Linked DNA regions of Homo sapiens. The protein of the gene in region 1 interacts with the protein of each later gene in a pairwise test. Each region holds a gene or a part of one and is shown in the gene's direction. Other genes may lie near its edges. The genes, in order: PPFIA1, CAGE1, PPP2R5A and PPFIBP2.

Region 1 (5,828 bases):
AAACCCTGTCTCTAGTAAAAATACAAAAAAATCGGCCGGGCTCGGTGGCTCACGCCTGTAATCCCAGCACTTTGGGAGGCCAAGGCGGGAGGATCACGAGGTCAGGAGATCAAGACCATCCTGGCTAACACGGTGAAACTCCATCTCTACTAAAAATACAAAAAAAAAAAAAAAATTAGCTGGGCACGGTGGCAGGCGCCTGTAGTACCAGCTACTCGGGAGGCTGGGGCAGGAGAATGGCATGAACCCAGGAGGCGGAGCTTGTGGTGAGCCAAGATCACACCACTGCACTCCAGCCTGGGCGACAGAGCAGGACTGTCTCAAAAGAAAAAATTTGCCAGGCATGGTGACACATGCCAATAATCCCAGCTACTTAGGAGGCTGAGGCAGGAGAATGGCTTGAACCTGGGAGGCAGAGGTTGCAGTGAGCCGAAATCATGCCACTGTACTCCAGCCTGGGCGACAAGAGCAAAACTCTGTCTCAAAAAAAAAAAAAAAGTAAACCTAAAAGGTATAGGGAATTTATTATAAAGAAGACTTTTTACCCTTACATTAAATAACTCAGGCACAAGCCTGCTAAAGGGATTATTATTATTATTGAGACAGGGTCTCACTCTGTTGCCCAGGTTGGAGTGCAGTGGCTCAGTCTCGGCTTACTGCAACCTCAGCCTCCCAAGTAGCTGGGACCACAGGTGTGGTCCCATGCCTTGCTAATTTTTTGAATTTTTTGTAGAGATGGGCTCTCACCATGTTGCCCAGGCTGGTCTTAACTCTTGGGCTCAAGCAATCCTCCTGCCTTGACCTCCCAAATTGCTGGAATTACAGACGCGAGCCACCGTGCCCAGCAAAGTTGACTATTTTAATGGCTTTTTAATTAAGGGAATGTGGGGTAAACTCCAGCAGGTCTCCCAGGTTCTTAAGAGTCAGAGGGTTTGTGAAGATCATCTGTCCTCACCAACAGTCCCAACTGTCTTAATGTCTTTGCTGGAACCATGCAGGATGTTGATTAAGTGTTCCTGGTATACCTGTGGGAAAACAAAAAACATAACCGGGAGCAGCCAGTACCTGCTTCCGATTTGCAAAAACTTAAAATCCCAGTTGTTAATGGAAATCGGGCTTACTTATGGCCACACTGTGTTTCTTGAACAAGAACCAAAATCTGTGGTCTCTATGATTAATATTTCTGGTAGGAACTGAGACTGGGCTTCAGTTTTTAGATCAGCTTTCACCCCACTCCCTGGCCAACGCCCCACCCCTGCAGCCAGATCTCTGCACCTGCTCTGCTCCTCCCCAGGAGAAAAGGGCACCGGCTTCCCAGACACCCAGCTAGTGCTGGGTAGCAAGGTTCTCTCCCTCCTCTTAGACTGGTCTTGTACCCGACGTCGTTGGCCTCTGCGCTCAGTGGGGCTGGGCAGCATCAGCAGTGCCGCTTGGTGTTTCCTTCATACCAGTGTTAGAGATGGAGCACTTAGGGCAGGGAGAAAGCCCCATTGGTCTATGAATGCAGAGTTTAGTAAGAGATAAAGGGATCACTCTAAGTAGGGGTCATTTATGCAGATGTACATTTTGAAATTGTTACTGTACCATTTGGTGCTTGGTATTTCGGAGTAGTGTTCCAGAGTCTCCCGGGGCTCTTTGGGAGCTGGGGAGAGCCACCACTGGGTGACACTTGGATCTCTCTGGCTCCATCCCGCCCACTCAGGCAGCTCCCCTCAGGTCCCTCCGTAGGCACTGCTGTAGGTGTGAAGATGTGTGTCTACTTGTGCCCTCATGTGATGTTCTAAGACTAACTGCACGCTGTGTTTGCACGCTTCCTCTCGTGGCTGTTGAAACAGGCAATGTATCAGGAACACAGAGGTTGGATTCTGCTACAGTCAGGACTTACTCCTGCTAAAGTCTCCTGTTGGTGAGTAGAGAGCACCACAACCCCTAGAGATGGCTCAGAGGCACAGCAGGAGTCATCGGAGCTGCAGTGCCAGACTAGGGGTGTGGACCATGAAAGCCAGTGCAGTTTTTGGGGAATTTAAAATATATATAGACACAAGCTCTCCGTACCCATTAAGATCATTTTGTTGTTACAATTGATCATAAAGAGGTTAGTGTGTCCTCTTTTTTTAAGGAAAAAAATGTATTTTCACCTTTTCCTTAAACCTGAAAATGCTGACTCATTTTAATTGTCTGTGGATGTCATGGGGGTGGAGTGGGGAGGAGAGCAGAGCATGGCAGAGAGCGTCAGGGGAGAGTCTCTCCTCCTGACGTCGTTATGCACATTGCTGTGATTCCTAAGCTTGCTTTGTTTTAAATACACATTCTTGAATGAAACAAGCCCAAAGTTTTGTGGTTAATTATATATTATACTAAGTGTGACACTAATAGCCTTTCAGTTTGGAGAGACTGGTTCTTAAAACTGCGGACTCTGGCTGGTGAGTGGCCCGCCCTCTCCTTGCTGTTCTAAGCAATTTTAAGGTCTCCGTTGGAATATTTGACTGGTTTGTTCATCTTTTATTTGTAATTGGTAACATGGAGACGTAAGCCAAAATGAAGTCAGCCAAGGAGCTGTCTCATTGATGTGCATAGCCCTTGATGTTCTAGCCAGTGATTCTCAGAGCAGCTACGGCACAGAAAGTGAGGGGTCCTGGAGGGGAGGGGTCAGTGTCGGGGGGACGTTTGGGCCCCAGCATCAGAAGTTCCCGTTCGTCAGTATGGCCCGGCCTGTACTGAGTGGTTTTTTGTTTGTGTTTATTTTCCAGTTTACCCACACTACTTCTACAGATGATTATGCAGCATTTGAATCCAACAAAGACTACATTTTGGAATCCAGTGGAATCTTTAATCTTGTTAATACTTGTTATATGGACCCTAAGATATTTTATTACAGAGTTTTTAATTAGTGAAAAATTCATGAATACCATAGAGAAAATATTTTAGAATTTAATGTTTCTTATATTTATGTAAACTTATGACTCTTCATTTATATAGTTACTTACTTTTTCATGTATATCCAGGCTATAAATATCCTTTCAAATCATGTTCTTATACCTAATTTTAGTCTTTCAAATGAATGTACTGTAATGCTTGTATGTATAAATCCTATGAATAGAGGGCTTTTGTAAATTATGCATTTATTGTAATTATCATTAATTTTTTAATGATAAACCATGACAAAGGATTTTACGTTTATAAAATTATGACAGAAGCCATGTGCATTATCCTTTACGGACGCAGCCTAGCTCTACAGCAATCATCCTGAAATAAGCATACCTAATTTCAAGCAATTGTTGTATTTTCATGACTGACCTTAACTGTACTTTTTCTAGCAAGAGATGCTTTATTCTGCAGCATGAACAGATTTAAAATGGCTGGTGTTAAATATCAGCTCCTAATAAGATGTGGACTGAAAACACTATCACAACACTATGAGAAGCCCCTAGCACTGGTTAACGCTTTCCTAGCCTAGTCTCTGGATTTGGGGAGCTTGTCTTCAGTGGCTGAGACTGTGAGCTGGGAGCAGTTCTCTCAGCTGGAGAGACTCGGGATGGGGTAACCTGGGGACCAGTCTAGCCCCTGCACCCTCTTCCCTGCCTCTGCTCCTTGGGAGCGGGTGGAGAGACACCCATGTGGCTCCCCTTAGGGCCAGCACCAAGCACCACGCTCTCATCCTGCAAGTCGGCGCACACAGTGGATGAAGGCAGGAGACCCAGAAAGCAGTGCAGTGCAGCTCTAATAAAGGCCTTATTTTTCTTATGTAAATCATCTTTTTACATTTGTTTGTAAACATGTTTAAAGAACGAACCTAGTGGGACATTTTTAGACTTTGATGCTCTAGCCATTTTGGATTGTGTAAGTTGCAGATGTGGCTTTTACTTTTTAAATGGCATATTAACAAGCCAGCAAAGTGTGTCAGACCATGGCGTGGTATTTATTGTGCAGCAGATCCAGAGACAGAGGCAGCCTGTCTTTTCAGTTGGTTTCTGCTTTTAATTTACTTGTACAATTCATTGTTACTGTTCTGTTTTTCTATTAATCTTTTGTCAACTTCCTGATTATGTAACAAAGTATGTACAGTCTACTTTTGAACTATTTTTATCACAGTATTATTTATTGCTTTCTTTCAATAAAGTACTGAAGCATTTTCCACTGCCAATGAAGAATACTGAGAATAAGCTCTAACTGTTTTGGAAGGCAGTGTCACCATATGGAAATTGTATTACAGAAGTCAATTGACAGAATAAAGCAGCCAGGAGATGAAGTGCAGGTTCAGGGCGTCATCCTGCCCGCTGCTCTGGAGGTCCCGAGCCTGCATCACTGCAGGAGACAGGTGCCTGGTGTTAAATTGTTAAATGCAAATGTGGGGGCTCACATACACAGTCGGTGGGTAGGGCCCAAAGGCAGAGCCTAGGCCGTGGACCGCGCGCATGCACGCATGTCCCTTAACACCGTTTCCCAGCTCTGCTTCCTTCCTCGGTGCTGGCTTCACACTCCCACCTGCTCTCCCTGCCTGCTCACAAAGGTGGCTCCCAGGCCTGCACCCTTCCACACTGATGGCCTCTGGAAATCAGGAAGCCTGGTTCCCTAATAGCTCACATCCGGTCCTGAGTTGTGAAGCAGCCCAGGGTGGCAGAGGGGAGGCGACACGCTGACAGGCTGGGGGAGTCAAGCAGGGCCCACCCATGGAAGTTGGTGAGCTGAGGCTGAAGGGCTGGAAGCTGATGCCCAAGAGGAAAGCCAGACACCAGCAAGTGTCCCTTCCCCTCCTCCCACCTCAGTGTTGCCATTGAGCCTGGGATTCGCAGAGCCCATGGCCACCACCACCCCACCTGGAGCAGGCATCAGCGGCCACTGCCGACGTCACCTTGGTCTCCGTTTCCTCATTCTGTCTCCGTTGCTGACACCTCGTCTGAGTGGCACGTGCTGTCACGTGGGTCAGTGTGTCCTGGGACGTTTCTCTCAGGCAGCCATCGGGTGTTCAGTGCTTTCCTGTTTCGAACCTGTGTTTGCTGATCTTCCTGCTTAATGTAGGGAAAGCCTTGTTTTCTGTACTTTCTAGTTCTTGAGGTTAACTTCAGTGTGAGCTTTAAAACATAATGTAGTGCCTCCCTGCTTTTTTCCATTTAATAGTCCCTTTTGGCTGAACAAAGCCAAAGGCATGCGTCGAGTATCTTAAAACTTCCAGAAAAAAAGAGACTGGGCAGGGTGTGGTGGCTCACGTCTGTAATCCAGCACTTTGGGGGGCCGAGGTGGGCGGATCACGAGGTCAAGAGATCGAGACCATCCTTCCCAACATGGTGAAACCCAGTCGCTACTAAAAATACAAAAATTAGCTGGCCTGTAGTCCCAGCTACTCGGGAGGCTAAGGCAGGAGAAACGCTTGGACCCAGGAGGTAGAGGTTGCAGTGAGCCAAGATCGCACCACTGCACTCCAGCCTGGCAACAGAGCAAGACTCCATCTCAAAAAAAAAAAAAAAAAAAAAAAAAAAGGGACTGGGGGCAGTGGCTCATGCCTGTAATCCCAGCACTTTGGGAGGCCAAGCTGGGAAGATCACTTGAGGCCAGGAGTTCAAGACCAGCCTGGGCAACGTAGTAAGACCCCCTTCTCTACCAAAAAAAAAAAAAGTGAAGACATTTTAAAATAAAACGACACTTGGCATGCAAATAGGTTTGACGTCTAGGACCGTTAATCTTCAAACTTGAGTGTGCGAAGCATCACCTGGCAAAAGATGCAGTTGTGGGCATCCCCTCTCCATTCAGAGCGATTCAGCACTCATTCATTGAGTATCTATCTACTCTGTACCAGGCTCTTTTTGGTGCTGGAGAGACCGTGGTAAGAA
Region 2 (6,224 bases), on another chromosome or scaffold:
CAGAAATTGATTTTCTCATTCTTAGAGGCTGGCAGTCCAAGATCAAGGTGCCAGCACGGTTGCTTTCTACTGAAGCCTCCCTCCCTGGCTTGCAGATGGCCAGCTTCTTGCAGTGTCTCACATGGCCTTTTGTCTTTGTGTATGCCTTGCTGCTGTCTCTTCCTCCTCTTATAAGGACACCAGTCATACTGGATTAGGGCCTACCCTTGTGACCTCTTTTAAGCTCAATTACTTTTTTAAAGGCCCTGTCTGCAAATAAGAGTCATGTTTTAAGGTACTAGGGGTTAGAGCTTCAGCATATGAATTTTGGGGGCACACAATTGAGCCCATAACAGTATACAACAAGAAGATCACAGAAAAAGAAACCTGTAAGACCATTAAATACATGAAAGGATGTACATTAAGAAGGTCACAGTAAAATACCATTTCATGCATATGAATTTGACATGTTTTGGAGAGATGTGTAGAGCAAAGGAACCCAGAGGCTACTGGTAGAAGCATAAATTGGTACACTTTGGAGAGTAATTTTGCAATATCTAGTAAAGTTGAAGATATGTATTTTCTATAATCCAGCAATTTCACTTCTAGGTGTATCCCCAGAACCTAGCCAAAAGTTTTTACATTGGCATAGAAGGAAACATGTTCACTGCAGTGCTGTTTTTAAGGGCAAAATTAGAAGCAACTTAAATAGCCAACAAAAAAGGAATAAAGTGTAATCTTTCAGTAGAATGAACTACATATATATGTATATATGTGGCTAAGCCTCAGAAGCAAAATTTTGTGTGAAATAAAGACTTTTTTTTTTTTTTGAGATGGAGTCTTGCACTGTCACCCACGCTGGAGTGCAGTGGCATGATCTCGGCTCACTGCAACCTCCGCCTCCCAGGTTCAAGTGGTTCTCCTGCCTGAGCCTCCTGAGTAGCTGGGATTACAGATGTGCACCACCACGCCCCACTAAGTTTTGTATTTTTAGTAGATACGGGGTTTCACCATGTTGACCAGGCTGGTCTCGAATTCCTGACCTCAGGTGATCCACCCACCTCAGCCTCCCAAAGTGCTAGGATTACAGGCGTAAACCACTGCGTCCAAGACTTTTATATGGCTATAGATAGAGTGAGATGCTATTTATGTAAAATATAAAAGCACATAAAACAATACTATATATTAATCACTCACCTAAAGTGTTGCAGGGTATTTTGGAGTTTGAGGGAAACAGTGACACTGGACATCTATCAGACCCCCACAATCTGTTAGCTGTAGTTTTCACTATAAACCCATACTATAGTCCTTCCTATGATGTCTTATTTGTAAAGGTAGGTTTTTGGAGGTTGCTATAATAAAAAGCAAGTCCCGTATGAAAATCATTGTGGAATAGGAAGTGAGAGTGGTGGTCTCCAATCTGATTCCACGATTTGAGGTGCTGTACGGTGCCTAACAGTGTACATCCAAGTAGTAAAGTGTGGTTGTTTAAGAATAAAATATTATATTTTTCTTTTAGTTTATGTGTATTTTCAAACAGCTAATAACTTAGGACAAATACTAGTTTGAACTTAATTATTTACTAAATGGAACTTAAGTATTCCTTTTGGTCCAGAGGTACTGTGAAAAAAAGTACTGAGACATTAAGGGTGTCACAAAATGAGGAAATCTGGGAACTTTATTCTTTGGCAAGATTATGTTGATTTTATTATTTAGGATACATAAATCAGTAGTAAAAGTAAAATGGGAATGGGAAGAATGAATACATATGGGCTTCAGTACACTGGTTATCTCTGGGGAGGAGGAAAGTTAGATAAAAGGGATCAATAATTTGTAACATTCTGTTTTCTTATTTGCTCCTGATTTTAAAAAACATTACATCTGCATAATTTGTCATATTGAAAAATAGTATAGCATAGCATTTAGAAGTAGTAGTCTAGAATCTCAGCAGCACTGCTTAGCAGCTCTGTGACTTTGGACAAGTGACTTTAACATCTCTTACACTTCAGTTTCCTTATCTGTAAAATAGGGATAATAACAGTACTGACATCATGGGATTTTTGTGAGATTAAGCAAGTTTATATGTGTTTTCTATTATACTATCCTTGTCCTTTTGAAACATTGTATAATTTAAAACATCTTAAAATTACAGTACAACAAAAGAATTTTGAAGATCTCTTGAAATTTATTGTAATTTTATTTGACCAGAATTACATATAACACACTTTTTCCTAGCAGTCATTTGGGGACTTCTTTCCCCCATGTAAAAAGTTTTGTTTTGTTTGCTAGCACAAAACCATGCTAAAATTCACACAGTAAATAAGGTTGAAATAATATATAATTTTTAAGTGGCTACAGCAGTTTATTTGATAAATATAAATATAACTGTTACCATCCAAGTTCATGGTCTACTCGTTTTTATTTCCTTCTTTCTCTTTCTTATGAGATAACAACATTGAAAATTACTCAACGAATGCACTAATTCAGCCAGTTGACACCATCAGCATATCTTCCTTGAGACAATTTGAAACCGTTTGCAAATTTCACTGGGTAGAAGCATTTGATGATGAAATGACAGAGAAGCCAGAATTTCAAAGTCAAGTGTATAATTATGCAAAAGACAACAATATAAAGCAAGACTCATTTAAGGAAGAAAATCCAATGGAAACTAGTGTTTCTGCAAATACAGACCAACTTGGTAACGAGTATTTTAGACAGCCTCCTCCTAGAAGCCCGCCTCTAATCCACTGCAGTGGAGAGATGCTGAAATTTACAGAAAAGTCACTGGCTAAAAGTATTGCCAAGGAATCTGCCCTCAACCCTAGCCAACCTCCAAGCTTCTTATGTAAGGAAAGTGTACACAATAATATTGTAAAACCATTTGATAAAGAGAATAGTTCTAACCTAGTTCATCTGAGAGTTAATTATAAAGCAGAGGAGGTACGATTGTGATGGTCAGTAAAGCCTGTGGAGTATTAAAGGATGCATTTTAAAAATTGTATATATATATATATAATCTGAGACTTTTCCAAGTAGTGTTAAATCACCTAGTTAGCATGAGGGACTTTGCTTCTCTGGGGAAAATGCATTCTGAGATCTTAGCCAATTCAGAAATAAATTTTTCTAGTAAAATCAAGTCCATACTTGAGGATTAGCTCTACCAAATGGTAATTTCTCTAAGGATCAGGACTGTCTTACTCACCCTCTTATGCACCACAGCGTCTATATGTTTCCTTGAATATAATAAGCTTTTTTTACCATAATTTTTTTTCACCACAAACAAGTTTATTAGAGAAGTAAAGAAACAAAAGAATGGCTACTGTGTAGACAGAGCAGTCTGAATATAATAAGCTTTTATATTTGTTGAATCAAAATGGCTGGAAGTAGCAGAGTTTACACTGATGGAAAGGTCAAGAAGAGGAAGGAGTGCAGAGGCACTAATTCATTTTTCAAGAAAAACAAGATTTCTCTGTCATATTGGAATTCTACTGACAAGCAAAAAATACTACTTTTTCTACTAAAGTGAAAATATTAGTTTATCATTTGGTTTATTGATTCCGAGCACACATGTAGTATCCTAAGAGCACTGAAGATACCGACAGTATATATTCTGTGTACTTTCTGAACAAAAAAATTAAAAATACTAGGAATTGGTATGGGAAAATAGATAAAATTCAAGAATAGTATAAGTAATACCTTTTCTCTTTTTTTGTTGTTTTGTTTTGTTTTTGATACGGAGTCTCACTCTGTTGCCCAGGCTGGAGTGCAGTGGCATGATCTTGGCTCACCGCAACCCCTGCTTCCTGGATTCAAGCGATTGTCCTGCTGCAGCCTTCTGAGTAGCTAGGATTATAAGCGTGTGCCACCACACCTGGCTAATTTTTTTTTGTATTTTTAGTAGAGACGGGTTTTCACCATGTTGGCCAGGCTGGTCTTGAACTGCCGATCCACCCGCCTTGGCCTCCCAAAGTGCTGGGATTACAGGTGTGAGCTACCACACCTGGCCAATAATACCTTTCCAATGTGAGTTTGATGGGAAACACTATGACTATAATGTCTTATTTACAAGTATGAGCATTTTCATTTTTTTGAAAGTAGATGACAGCATTTAAAAGGACTTTATTTGTCCAAGTTGATTTCTGGAAAACAACCTTTTAAAAATCAGCTTAAATAGGGTTTCGCAAGATTGTTCTTTCCTCTTTTCATTGCATTTAGCCATTTTTCATTCAGTCAATAGATACTTTTAGGCATCTATTACATGGCAGGTCTGTACTACACATTAGGTGATGGTTAGAAAATAGACAAAAAGATGTAGTTCTTGTCCTCATGAAGACAGCATCCTACTAGAGGAGGTAGTCATTAATCAATCACACAAATAAATGTGAACTTGCAACTATAATAAGATCAATAAGGTGAATAAAGTTACATATAAAGTATATGTAGAGCATGTTATATAAAGTTACTATTTATGCTATGATGCTATATCAAGTTACAGATAAACTTGCAACTATGATAAGTGCTGCATATGTAAGTAGGTTGGGCATCTATGATAAGGACACTACCCTGATCAGGGAGTCTGGGGAAGGCATCCCTGAAGAAATGATCATTGAGCTGAGCTCTAAAGGATGGGTAGAAGTTAATTAGGCAGCCATGGGTAGGAGAGCCTTCCATACAGAAGGAAGAACGTCTGCAAACCCTGTGGCCACAGGAAGCATGGTACCTACTAGGACCTGAAGGAAGCCCTGAGTCCAGGAAGATCAGAGTTGGAGGAAGGAGGAGGGGTACAGCAGATGAAGACAGAGAGGTGGTGTGGGTCAGATACTGCTTTAGTTCATTTCATCTTGCTGCAACTATATCACAGACTGGGCAATTTATAATGAATAACAATTTATCTGGCTCACGGTTCTGGAGGCTAGGTCCATGGTGCCAGCATCACTCGAGGGTCTCTGTGCTGTCATTTCATGGTGGGAGGTGGAGGGGCAAAAGAAGGTGAGATCGAGGGAGCAAGTGGAGGCCAAACTAACTTTTATTTTATTTATTTATTTATTTATTTATTTATTTATTTATTTATTTATTTTGAGATGGAGTCTCGCTCTGTCGCCCAGGCTGCAGTGCAGTGGCACCATCTTGGCTCACTGCAACCTCCGCCTCCCGGGTTCAAGCAATTCTCCTGCTTCACCCTTCCCAGTAGCTGGGATTACAGGTGTGTGCCACCACGCCCAGCTAATTTTTTGTATTTTTAGTAGAGACAGGGTTTCACAGTGTTAGCCAGGATGGTCTCAATCTCCTGACGTTGCGATCCACCTGCCTCGGCTTCCCAAAGTGCTGGGATTACAGGTGTGAGCCACCACTCCCAGCCCCCAAACTCACTTTTGTAACAAATCCACTTGTGATAACTAACACACTCCTGTGATAACAACATTTAGTCATTTTTATTCACCTCTTACTAGGCCCCGTCTTCCAACACTGTTGCACTGGGGATTGGGGATCAAGCTTCCGGCACGTTAACTTTAGGGGATGCATTTAAAGCACAGCAGATATCAAGAGCAAGATATTAGGGCCTTGTAGGTCTCAGTAATGATAGTTATCTTTATCCCAGAACAATGAAAAACCATTAAGATACAAGGTTCTGCAGAAGGATGAGCTCAAAAAACAAAATACAGAAGTCCTTGTCTCTAAATTCCAGAGAATTATACAGCACACCACTACAGATACCTTTTACTGGGTTTTTACTTATTTATTTATTTTAGATACAAGGTGTCTTGCTCTGTTACTCAGATTGGAGAGCAGTGTGATCATGGCCCACAAGAAATCCTCCTGCCTCAGCTTCCCAAGGAGCTAGGACTACAGGCACATGCCACCACACCTGACTGATTTTTAAAATATTTTTTTTGAAGAGATAGGGTATCACTGTGTTACCCAAACTGGTCTCCAACTCCTGGTCTCAAGGAATCCTCTCACCTTGGGCTCCCAAAGTGTTGGGATTACAGGTATGAGCCACTGTGCCTGGCCTGGGTTTTGTTTTTGTTTTTTTTGTTTGTTTGTTTTTTGTTTTTTTGAGACAGAGTCTCGCTCTGTCGCCCAGGCTGGAGTGCAGTGGCGTGATCTCGGCTCACTGTAGCCTCCACCTCCAGGGTTCAAGCAATTCTCCTACCTCAGCCTCCCGAGTAGCTGGGACTACAGGTGCACACCGCCACGCGCAGCTAATTTTTGTATTTTTAGTAGAGATGGGGTTTCACCATGTT
Region 3 (6,224 bases), on another chromosome or scaffold:
TTATAAATACCAGAAAAACAAGCCTTTCTGCAGTATCTGAGAAAATGTGGTATGACCATTCAATCCATGGGCAAATCTTTGTTTTACATTTGTAAGTCTTTGAACTTGACATATATTTTAAGCATTGGGACTTTGAAATGACGGGGGAAAAAAGGAGTAGAATCATTGTGAGGAATTTGGGCTTTAGGCTCCTTTCCTAAGTATCAATTACCTTTTCCTTTTTCTTTCCTCTTTGCACCTAAGCCCCACCACCCAATTCCTAAACCACAGATAAAGTGGAATCATTAAGAACGTAAGGAGGTAGAATTAATTGTGATGCCTTCTTTTTTTTTTATAAACTGCTTATTAGCTGTTATTTTTGGAACCTACATATTCACAATTTCTAAGAATATATTCATTTTCAAAACCTTTTCAAAAATTTAAAGGCCTCTTTTTTTTTTGAGAGGGAGTCTTGTTCTGCTGCCCAGACTGGAGCACAGTGGTGCAACCTCAGCTCACTTCATCCTCCGCCTCCTGGGTTCAAGCGATTCTCCTGCCTCAGCCTCCCAAGTAGCTGGGACTACAGGCACACGCCACCATGCCCGGCTGATTTTTTTTTTCTATTTCTAGTAGAGACGGGGTTTCACCACATTGGCCAGGCTGGTCTTGAACTCCTGGCCTCAAGGGATCCTCCCACCTCAGCCTCCTAAAGAGCTAGGATTACAGGTGTGAGCCACTGCACTGGCCAAAGGCCCCTTTTTAACTATATGGAATTGGCTGGCCCCAAAGAAAATTGTGAAGTAGACCAAACCTTTCTAGGCATTTCTAGGCCTGAGTATGCAGGCCTCTTTAGGAATTTGATGCTGAGGCCAGGATTAAAATCATTGCAAGGACCTTTCCTACCCTTCAGACCGCTTTGTATGTGCCCTATGATAAAAATTCTACTAATGTGAGTTTGGTATATTTAGAGCTGATCTTTGGTCATTCATAACTACCCTTGACCTCATATAAAGTATTCTGACCTGTTGCTGTGAAGGATTGATAAATGAAGAACATTGTCAGCCTAAAATATTTCCTTCAACCATTGAAGTAGCTCTTCATAAACTATAAAGAAATATTAGGTGTGTATTAACAGTAACATATACATTTTAATCATGACTAAAAATTACATTAAATGGAGTTATGTTATTTTGGTAATTGCAAATGAATGCCTGTTTATTTCCTTGTGCAGCTCTTGTGTGGGATACATTAGGGAGCTCTAGTAATGCCATATGAAATTGTATTTAATACAGTAACAGGTTGAGGGGAACAATTGCCTTAGTGCTTTGTTAGTCTAGAGCTTGAGGTATTTAAGCTGCTGTATTATTTTGTGGTGTGAGGGGAGCAAAAAGAAAACTGGTGGGGCAGGATCTGTTTTCTACCTTCTACTTTAAATGCTTGAATTATCTGAGAAGCTAGGGCCCAGTAATTGCTTTTAGCAGTTTATATGGCTGTTTTGCTCTTGTTGCCCAGGCTGGAGTGCAGTGGCTGGATCTTGGCTCACTGCAACCTCGGCCTCCCAGGTTCAAGCGATTCTCCTGGATCAGCCTCCCAAGTAGCTGGGACTGCAAATGTGCCGACATGCCTGGCTAATTTTTGTTTGTACTTTTAGTAGAGACAGGGTTTTACTGTGTTGGCCAGGCCGGTATCAAATCCCTGACCTCAAGTGATCCGCCTGCCTTGGCCTCCCAAAGTGCTGGGATTACAGTTGAGAGCCACTTTGCCCGGCTGCCATTTTTAATTAGAATAATTTGATGTGAACTTATTAGATATATTAACAAAAATTCTCATACTCCGTAGATATTTTTTGCTGGAGTCTCATGAGGGCCTTAACAGCCTAGCAAACAAAGAATGGAAACTATAAGTATGGCAGTTGTTTTGGGAGATATAAATATGATTTAAGTCATCCACTCTGGTTTCAGATGCATGTGTTAGCAATTGTATATAATTCAAAACAAAATGGAATAAGAACTTCTGATGAGGTTCAGAGCTTGCTATCTTTATTGTAATTATAAACACGAAAGTTCAGAACATAAAATTCCTTGACAGCTTTACAGATACTTGTACTCTAGAGAGAGTATTTTATATTTTTCTAAGAAAATCCAATGTTTAAAATACAGTGTTTTTTTTGACAGAAGAAATTAAGTTTCTTTACCATTTTAAATGGAAATTTGAGATTTTGACTTTAACTTTTTCTAAAGTCTCTTCTCTCAGGTTTTGCTGAAAAGTTGTGCAGAATATAGGAGTACACTGATTGGGCCAATTGAGGTATAGGAGAGTGCTGACTGTGGAACTGGTTTAAAATTTTTCAGCTATTTGCTAAGCTGAAAAATCTATGGGCTGGGCATAGTGGCTCACGCCTATAATCCTGGCACTTTGGGACACCGAGGAGGGTGGATCGCTTGAACTCAGGAGTTTGAGACCAGCCTGGGCAACATGGTGAAACCCCGTCTCTACCAAAAAATATATAAATTAGCTGGGTGTGGTGGCATGTGCCTGTAGTCCCAGCTAGTTGGGAGGCTGAGGCAGGAGGATCTTCTGACCCCAGGAGGTCGAGGCTGCAGTGAGTTGTGATTGCATCACTACCCTCCAGTCTAGGCTACAGAGCAAGACTGTCTTAAAAAAAAAAAAAAAAAAATTTGGCCTCATCTTTTAGTCCAGTGTTATTTTATATATGATTTCTACTCTATTAGTATGTATCTGCCAATATTTTATTCTAATAACTGAATGTTAATTTTTCAAATGTCTGCATGGTAACTGTCTTGAATTTATTGTAAATTCACAAAAAGAAGTCTTAGTATATGTACATCTTTCTAGTAAACTAGAAATATACATTTACACATGGATCTTTTTAAGACTATTTGATGACTTGCAATCTAAAAACTTAAACGATTTTCTATGTAGTTTTGACGATCAAAAAGCATTAAAAATCCCAAATTTTAACACTCCAAAATTGTGAGCCTCTTTAGTATTCAAGAGTAGGATTGAATTTTAAAATCAGTGGGAAGGTAAAGAAAAATCCACTTTTTGAAATATTTATATTTATTGTAAATGTCATATTTTGAAGTGAAATAAGTGAGAAGAAATATTTCCTAAGCTTTTCCTCACCTTCATTACTTAGCAAGAATAAAGTCAGTGTGGTAAGGAAGAACTCTAAAAAATTTTTAAAAGATGTCATGGATAATCTTTAAGATCAAAATTAGAATAAAGCTTTAGCTCGATTATTTTTTAAAAGTAATTTCTCAGGTTTCTTTTAAAGCTCCTGGAGCTTTTTGATAGTGAAGATCCCAGAGAACGTGACTTCCTGAAGACTGTTCTGCACCGAATTTATGGGAAATTTCTTGGATTAAGAGCATTCATCAGAAAACAAATTAACAACATTTTCCTCAGGTAAATTAATCATTTATTGTATATTGCACCTTTTCCTCCTACATATCTTCTTGTATTCAAGTTCTTTTATTTTTATTTGTTTTTTTGAGACAGGGTCTCACTCTGTCATCCAGGCTGGAGTGCAGTGGTGAGAACATAGCTCATTGTAGCCCCCATCTCCCAGACTCAAGCAATCTTCCTCTCTCAGCCTGCCAAGTAGTGAGACTACAGGTGTGCACCACCACGCCTGGGTAATTTTTTTGACTTTTAGTAGAGACAAGGTCTATGTACTGTATGTACGTAGTATATATATGTAACATATATATGTAACATAGTATATATGTGTAACATATATATGTAACGTAGTATATATGTAACATACTATGTATGTTGCCCAGGCTGGTCTTGAACTCCTGAACTCAAGCAGTCCTCTTATATGGGGCCTATCATTTGCTTGTAGTCATCCCTCAGTATCTGGGGAGGATTGATTCCAGGGCCCCTGCTAATAGCAGAATCCAAAGTCCCTTATATAAAATGGCACAGTATTTGCATATAACGTCCACACATCCTCCTGTATACTTTATTTCTAGATTACTTACAATACTTAATACAGTGTGAATGCTGTGCAAATAGATGTTATTCTATATTTTAAATTTGTATTTATTTTTCAAAAATATTTTTGATCTGTAGTTGGTTGAATGCACAGATAATGAAACCTGCGGATACAGGGCCAAGTGTACTTTATAAATATTAATCTGTTAAGTAGTTGCTTCAGATCAGGAGATTTCATAACAACACCCACATTCAAGGTTTGGTTTGTTTAATTAATTGAAGATCTGGCAAAATTTGGTTACTATTCCCACATTGCAACAATTAGAGATGAGTAATATCTGCCTCCTCTAGAGTGAATATCTTTCTCCAGTTCTCTGTCATCACTTCCTAAGCCCATTTCAAATATCTGCCCTATTATATTTATGTCTCCCTGCTTTAAAGGCAGCCCTAATCTTGGAAAGCTATGCAGCCTATATAGTTAGAGGTGTAAAGAAATTCTGATTAAAAATGGCTTTATTACATATGGGTCTTTTTCTCTTGGATTTCCCTATAATTAGAGGTTTCTTATTTTAAAAAGTATTTCTTTGAGGAAACTTATCTTTCTTATTAATTATTAAGTTGAATATTCCAGGTGAAATGACAATCTGTTATCTTCACATATGGCGAGTTTTGGCAAAGGCATATGTAGTTCAGTAGGAAACATCTTCTTTTTTAAGATTGATATGAATTAACTGTTTGGGGCAAAACTGCTTATAAGACCCAAAACATGCTTGTGTGTTTCTAATAGCTGTCCTTTGGATTGATTTCTTCACCCTCCTGCCTGTTTCTCTTAGTTTTCTGAAGTTTGATTTTGATTACATCTTGTCTTTATTTTAAATTCAGGTTTATATATGAAACAGAACATTTCAATGGTGTTGCTGAACTTCTTGAAATATTAGGAAGGTAGGTCAGGTTTTTTTGTTCTTTTTAAGAATTAAGTAAGTGAATGTTTTATGTATTAAAATCTTAGCTGGGGTTGGAGAAATTATGTCATATTTTAGAGTTTAAATGTAGAACACATAGTTTCTCAACTGAAGTCTTTTTTTTTTTTTTGAGACGGAGTTTCGCTCTTGTTGCCCAGGCTGGAGTGCAATGGCGCGTTCTCGGCTCACTGCAACCTCTGCCTCCCGGGTTCAAGAGATTCCCCAGCCTCAGCCTCCTGAGTAGCTGGGATTACAGGTGCCTGCCACCACACCCAACGAATTTTTTAATTTTTATTTTTAGTAGCGATGGGGTTTCACCGTGTTGGCCAGGCTGGTCTTGAACTCCTGACCTCAGGCAATCCACCCCCTTCGGCCTCCCACAGTGCTGGGATTACAGGCGTGAGCCACCATGCCCAGCCTCAGCTGAATTCTTATTACCTTTTGCCATAACACTTTGCCTTCCTTATTCACTACGTATTAGTATTAAGAGAATTTTAGACCCTTCTGTTACTATTTAGACAATGATTTTAGTTTCCTTTATTAATAGTAGAAAATGATTGTGGAGAGAACTACTTCTTTCACGTTATCCAACAAAGTAAGAAAAATTACCCATTTACTTCAGAAAAATATTGAACATTCTAACAATATTGTGGTACTGACTCTCCTGGAGCTTTGGGGGCAAAAATAAAAGCAACAATGCATAAAGTGACAGGTTTGATAGAAAATGAAGATAGAAATTACTTGGGAATTAATTGACAGTCCTAATTTTCTTTTGGAATCATCAAATGACTTAGAGGAACAGACTTCATAGTAATAGTCTTCCTAAAGTAGTTTGAAGATGAGCAGTCATACAACACCAGGATTGAAGCATAGCACTGTTCCTTATGTACTCATGGATATGACAGCTTTTAGAAACAAAGTAGTAACTACTTAACCCTTCCCCTGCCTTTTTTTCCCTCCAGTATTATCAATGGCTTTGCATTGCCACTGAAAGCAGAACATAAACAATTTCTAATGAAGGTTCTTATTCCTATGCATACTGCAAAAGGATTAGCTTTGTTTCATGCTCAGGTAAGTTTCAGAAACATTTCAGATGAAATGAATATTATTTCAAAGGCCAATATAAAGGCAGAGAAATTGAGAAATACTGAGATGACAGTTTTAAGTATAATTAAGCAATTTGCTTACAAAATTACCCAAAGCAAATTTTTCTTATTTTAAAGTATTTAGTTGTTAAGTAAGACCAATTATTTAATTTCTATATCTACACTTACAGTTTAAGATACACACTTTCCTCATATTATAGTCCAGGTCTTGACCTAA
Region 4 (6,224 bases), about 63 Mb from region 1:
GGTAGGAACAAAGTTATGGGAATTCCTGTCTTTCATCTGAGCAGGGAAATCTGGGATAATTTTAAGAAAGGGTGATGTGATGGACCTCAAAGGATCCCTCCTGGGGTTTTTGAGGCAGAGAAGGGTAGAGTGTGGCCTGGGCTGTGACAACTGTGTGGGCAGGCAGGCATGGACTCACCATGAGAAGTGGCCAGTGGTCCAGCTTGGCTCTTATGTCAAGTGCTAGTCAGGAAAGCTGGTGACAAGGCTGGAAAATAGTCCCAGCTGTCCAGTACAGAAGTCTGGACTTGGTCTGAAGGCACAGCAGGGGACTGACTGATGGTTCTGTGAACTTCTCAAAGTCAAAGACCTTGGTCCTTGACCCTCCCAATTCCTAGCCTGATACAGAGAAAATCCAGTAAATATTTGTGGAGTGCATGGTCTGACAACACTGTAGAGCAGAGCTTCTCAAAGTTGAGAATCCTGTGGGGATCTTGTTCAAATGCAAATTATGATTCCATAGGTCAGGGGTGGGACTTGACATTCTGTGTTTCTAACAGATTCCCAGGAGCTTGCTGATCATTTCCCTATGTGTAGCAAGGATTTAGAGTAGCAGTTTGCAAACCTGGCTATGCCTCATAATCGCCTGGGGAGTTTTGTAAAACGTTCAGATTAAGTAGTCTGGGATGTTTTTACCAAGTTCCCCCAGGTGATTCTGTTGACAAACCCGAAGGCAACTGCTGCAATGGCAAAGTTCTGGGAGTGTGGTGGGAAGCAAACTCCAAGGGAAAAAGACAGTGGGGGCGGCGAGGCCGGATAGGAAACCGGGAGGCTGATCCAGGGTCAAAGGGATGAGGCCTTATTTTGGGCCTGAGAGAGTGATGAGGTGGGGACAGGTAGGGAGACTTCGGAGAGATAGAATCTGTAGGACAGAGGACTAGGGAATGGGACAGTCTCTAGACTGATTAGATGCAATGAGAAGTGAGGAGGGAGAAACAATGCTGGGAAGATTCAGCTTTGGGCCTGAGGAATGGTATGGCCTTTAGACTGTAATGTTTAAGGTAAAGTTTATGAAAGGTTCTTGTATTGGTTCGAACCCCGAGAGCCTGCCAACAGACAACATGAGGCGGTGTGGGGCAACGTGCTGTTTTAACGAGCGCCTGGGTGCAGGTGGGCTGAGGCCTAAAATGGCGTCAGCACCAAGTGAGGACGAGGCAGGGGTTTTATAGTTTCCTGTAAACAAGAAGTGTCTCAGTCTGATGTAACTTCTGCACAGTACCCAGACGGCCCCTCTCTCTGTCTTCAAGGGGTACGTGTCTTCCAGCCAGGGTAGGTGTCTTCTGGCCGGCTGTCTTCCTGCTTCTGCTGTCTTGCTGATGCACACTGCTGGCGCAACTGGCCTTGCACCTTGGGACTGGGCCTGAGAAGGGAGGAGTTACTCATCTCTTCAAGCTTTCAGACCCCGGGGAGAATCTTTCATTCCTGTCTATTTGGTTATAGTAAAAAGGGAAAAGGGGTGACTTTCTCAATAACTACTTCAGGCGTGACTTAGGGGTGGTGTGGGCTCCTTGGAAAAAGAAAAACTTAATTTTTAGGGTATTCTTGAGAGATGTGTTGGTATCCATCGTGTCGTTGTAGCAGGAGCATAGTCTGAATTGTCTGGTGGCTAACTGTAGTTTCAATAAGAGTTTTAGTGGCTTTTATTATTAGTGGGATAACACAGGGGAGAAAAAGTGATGAAGATTACTGTCCCTACCAGGGTTTTAAATCCTCCTAAATTAGAGAACTGTTGTCCGGCTGCTAGAGTGAGAGCTCGAGTGAGGGTGATGAGTTCAGCTTTTTGGGAGGTGGTGCCTGGGAGGAGCAGATTGGCTTCAATAGTGTGGGGTCTTTAAGGGTAATGTGGACAGGGGTGTGGTGTTTTGCAACTGAGGGTGTGGAAATATCCCTAACAGCGGGGTTAACTACAGATAGGGGTAAGGAAAGGTTGCATGTTTTAGGGTGGGAGGTTGGAGGAGCAGAAGAAAGCTAGAAGCCTCGGAGGGGTCTGGGTTGATGCGTTGGGTACTACGGGGAATGTGGAAGTGGAGAGTAGTGTGGAGTTTTGAAAGGATGTCCCTGCCTAGGAGCAGAGTTGGGAATGAGACCAGGTTTGGGGTGAAAAAGTGAGTGAAGGAAAAGGTGTGCAGGAAGCAGAAAAGTGGAGGGGTGGCTCGGGGTTAGGAGACTTGTCCATCAATTCCCACAACAGAGACTTAGGAGGACTGGGTGGGTCCTGAAAAATTAGGTAAAGCAGAGTAGGTCACCCATGTTGATTAAAACCATCAGGGTTACCCTTGGCTCGGATGAAGTGATGGTAGTTGCCGGGGCATCCATTCCAGGGCACCATCAGTCTTCAGCGGCAAGGCAAATGAGATCCGAGTAGGAGGTTTTGGCCTGCTCAGGAAGGGATGGGGGGCGGTCCCTGCAGGGGCCGCTCATAGTCCGACTTCCAGTGGGGTCCTCCGCAGAGGGGGCACGGCCTGGTGGGCTTACCTGGGTATGGGCATTGTCTGGACCAGTGGCTTTCATTGCCGTACTTGAAACAGGCGCCAGGTGGAGGTGGATTGCTAGGAGGCTTCTGTGTGGAGCTGTGGCCCCGTGGGCCTGCAGGGCCCCTGATGGCGGAGGCAGGCATTTGAAACTCTGCCTGTTTTTGCCTTTTACTTTCCTCATCATGATTGTTAAAGACTTTGAAGGCTAAATTAAGAAGGTCTTGTTGTGGGGTTTGAGGGCCGTCGTCAAGCTTCTGAAGCTTGCACCGAATATCGGGAATGGATTGGGAGATGAACCGAAGGTTTAAGATAGTGGTTCCTTCTGGGTTGGCTGGGTCTAGGTTGGTATATTTTCTCATGGCTTCAGTTACATGAGAGAGAAAAAGGGCTGGGTTTTTGTCAGGACTTTGGGTGATTTCTGGAAGTTTTTCATAGTTTACCACTTTATGGGCACCCTTTTTGAGTTCTGCAAGGAAACACATAATCGTGTGGTCTCGATGGCAGCATCTAGAGGCCCTGTCTTGATAATCTCAGTGGGAGTCCTGGTTGGGGACTGCCTCTGCACCAGTAGGCTTGGCAGGAGCTTGTTGATGAATTGTGTCAGCATGCACCTGAGCTAGGGTCCAGACACAGTCCTGGTCTTCTGGGGTGAGGGTGGAAGAGGGGATAACGTAGAGGTCATGCCAAGTTAGTTCATAAGACTGGGTAAGGTACTGAAACTCCCTGATATAAGAGGTAGGGTCGTCTGGAAATGAACCGAGTCTTTTGTTAATTTGAGAGAGATCAGTGAGGGAGAAGGGAACATGAACTCTTAACAATACCTTCAGCTCTTGCTACTTCCCAAAGGGGACACTCTAGCACTGGCGCTGAAGTGAGGGTGGGGCATGAGCCAAAGATGGCGCTCGAGCGAGTATGGGCGGGAGAGAAGGAAGAAGTCAGAAGTCGTTCCTGCTGAGGGTTTGAAGGGGAAAGGGGGTTTGAGTTGATAAGCAGTGGAGGACAGATAGGGGCGTAAGGTGGCGGGATGGGTTTACAGGCTTCAGGAGAGGGCAGTGAGGAAGGAGAATGAGTACAGGCAGTGCTAGAGTTGTCCTCAGGAGAGGACAGTGTAGGAAAAGAAGTGGGTACTGCTGACTGGGAAGATGGTGGCTGGGAAGATGGCAGCTGAGAAGATGGCGACTGGGAAGATGGCAGCTGAGAAGATTGCGGCTGAGAAGATAAAGAGGAGGCTTGCGGGGTTAAAGAAGATGGTTGAGAGGGAGAGGTAGAGTCTGGGAGGAATGGACAGCAGTCTGCTGGATCTAACGGGGAAAAAGAGGTATGGTCGGGAGGAGAAAGGCGATCAGGGCTGCGAGAATGGAGGAGAAGGATTTGAACAGGTGAGCAAGAATTGCAGAGGTCGGGTTGTGATCTGAGTGCCAAAAGGCCTGGAAATAAGGAATTTCTTCCTATTTCTTCGGTCGTTGGCAATACTTGCTTAAATCAGTTAAAACTGTAAAGTCGAATGTTTCATTTGCCGGCCATTTGGACCGTTATCTAATTTGTACTGTGGCCAGACTGAATTGCAAAAAAAGAAAAGGCGCTTAGGGCGGATATCTTGCCTGAGGCCTAAGGTTTGCAGGTTTTTTATGAGGCAGCCTAGAGGGCTGTTTTTTAGAATGGAGGGCCGGGAGTTTCCCATAATGAAGGGTAGGCACAGGAGAACAGGGAAAAAGGAGACAGTCCTGGACAGCCGGACGGAGACGATAAAAGGAGCGATCGTCACCACTGCCTTTTTCATTCCTGGAACGGGATCAAATGGCTTAGAGGTGTCCCCCTAAGACCAGATGATCAGCGAGTGCCTGGCACACGCTGGAGCCTTTTTGGACCAACGTTGGATTTTCGGACCAGAGAAACCAAAAGAGGCCGAGCACGTTTTTCCCTGTTAACCAGGTTCCCGGGGAAGCTTACCAGTAGGTGAGATCAGTGACTGATCTGCATGCACAGAGAGGCGACTGGAGGCTAAGGAGCTTCCTTTGTCCAGCTGCTGTGGCCTGCTTTCCAGCATAGAGGGGTAGGTCCACGGGGGACACAGACCCGAGCCTCTCCCAGGTTTCGGCACCAGATGAAAAGTTCTTGTATTGGTTCAAACCCTGAGAGCGCTCCAACAGACAACACGAGGCGGTATGGCGCAACATGCTGTTTTAATGAGCGCCTGGGTGCAGGCAGGCTGAGGCCTAAAATGGCATCAGCACCAAATGAGGACAGGGCAGGGGTTTTACAGTCTCCTGTAAACAAGAAGTGTCTCAGTTTGAGGTAGCTGCTACGTGGTACCCAGACGGCCTCCCTTTTGGTTTTCAGGGGGTACGTGTCTTCCGGTTGGGGTGGGTATTTTCCGGCTGGCTCTTTTCCTGCTTTTGCTGTTTTGCCGACGCACGCTGCTAGCACAACTGGCCTTGCACCTTGGGACTGGGCCTGAGAAGAGAGGAGTTACTCATCTCTTCAACCTTTCAGACCCCAGGGAGAATTTTTCAGTTTAGAAGTGGTTTTTTACTTGGCCATAAGATTTTTTTTTTTTTTTTCCTGAAATGCAAATCTGTTCATGATGCTGTCGTGTTTGAAATCCTCTGGTGGATATCCTAATGCAAAATATAAGAAGGAAGCACTAATATAAACACAACTGATAACACTTGTTCCATTCTACAGCCTGTTCATCCCCATTCAAGATGTGACATTCAGTCCCCATTTGGTGTGGGCACAACTAGGCTGAAACTTTTGGCAGCTTTGTTTATTCCTGAGTCACTATTTTCCCTGCGTCCTTCTTCTTCAGAGGAGCTCCACCTCCCTTGGACTTTATGTTTCTTAGTATCATTTTTTGGTTCCAATGCTTGATGGCACCTATGTGTCTCTGTCTTCATGGAATCTATGTAGTTCTAGGAAAGGTGGGCTTTATCCTTTATACACCCTTAAAGCCAAGTCTTGTTTGACTGTGGATCTTCACAAGCTTCATTCTTATCTCTCACTCATCTGGTAAATAAGCCTCTAAAAGAGGCTGTCCTAGAATAATCTGTTTAGCTTTAGGCCCAGATCTCCTTAGTGCCTCAAGTTCCAGGGGACTGCTGACTCCGAGCTTTGTCTTCAGCAAATGTATGATTTCTGTTTGCCTTAAGGTCGTTGGCTTGGTTCTCCCTGGTTATTCTTACTTTCACTTCCTCTCTCTGTCATGTTCATATGTACACATTTATGCACACTGAAAGCTGAGCATTCATTGTGCTTGATGCTTTTAATCACCCTGTTCTATGTTGCATAGTAATCATGATCCCTAACATACCTGTAGATGGGAGGCCTAGACACAGAAGGAATAGGACTGTCTCTCTGATAGGATAAAATACACCATCCTTGTATGGCATTCAAATCTCTACAGTGGTGGGCCCTACTTTAGCTCTCCAGCTGCCTCTCCACTGTTCCCCAAACTGAGAAGCTGAGTAATTTCTATTCTTTTGTGCCTATCTGCATTTGCATACACTATTTTATCTTCCTGGAAAGCCCTTTTGTCTCTATTCTGCAAGATTATTAATCCTTCAGGATATAGATCAAATTCTTAAAGCTCCCTTGCCCCTAAGTCGTTTTTACTCTTCTGTTACATACATATCACATCAAACAAAGATCTGCTATGCTATTTCATCACTTTATGTCTATGTCTCTGTCCATATTCCTCCAAACTCTGAGCTG

The links.
Region 2: the proteins of PPFIA1 (region 1) and CAGE1 interact in a two-hybrid assay, tested with the Homo sapiens proteins (one large-scale study listed by BioGRID).
Region 3: the proteins of PPFIA1 (region 1) and PPP2R5A interact in binary tests that used the Homo sapiens proteins (3 or more experiments, as listed by UniProt).
Region 4: the proteins of PPFIA1 (region 1) and PPFIBP2 interact in a two-hybrid assay, tested with the Homo sapiens proteins (one study listed by BioGRID).

What each region holds. Positions count from the first base shown.
Region 1 is NC_000011.10:70,380,253-70,386,080, forward strand, and holds the end of PPFIA1 (liprin-alpha-1), read left to right. Parts: intron 1-1,835; coding exon 1,836-1,894; 3' UTR 1,895-1,906; intron 1,907-2,750; coding exon of another isoform or gene 2,751-2,776; 3' UTR 2,777-4,144; downstream 4,145-5,828. UniProt on the Homo sapiens protein: May regulate the disassembly of focal adhesions. May localize receptor-like tyrosine phosphatases type 2A at specific sites on the plasma membrane, possibly regulating their interaction with the extracellular environment and their association with substrates.
Region 2 is NC_000006.12:7,375,222-7,381,445, reverse strand, and holds part of CAGE1 (cancer-associated gene 1 protein), read left to right. Parts: intron 1-2,425; coding exon 2,426-2,829; intron 2,830-6,224.
Region 3 is NC_000001.11:212,342,526-212,348,749, forward strand, and holds part of PPP2R5A (serine/threonine-protein phosphatase 2A 56 kDa regulatory subunit alpha isoform), read left to right. Parts: intron 1-3,277; coding exon 3,278-3,408; intron 3,409-4,821; coding exon 4,822-4,881; intron 4,882-5,863; coding exon 5,864-5,972; intron 5,973-6,224. UniProt on the Homo sapiens protein: The B regulatory subunit might modulate substrate selectivity and catalytic activity, and might also direct the localization of the catalytic enzyme to a particular subcellular compartment.
Region 4 is NC_000011.10:7,515,449-7,521,672, forward strand, and holds part of PPFIBP2 (liprin-beta-2), read left to right. Parts: intron 1-6,224. UniProt on the Homo sapiens protein: May regulate the disassembly of focal adhesions. Did not bind receptor-like tyrosine phosphatases type 2A.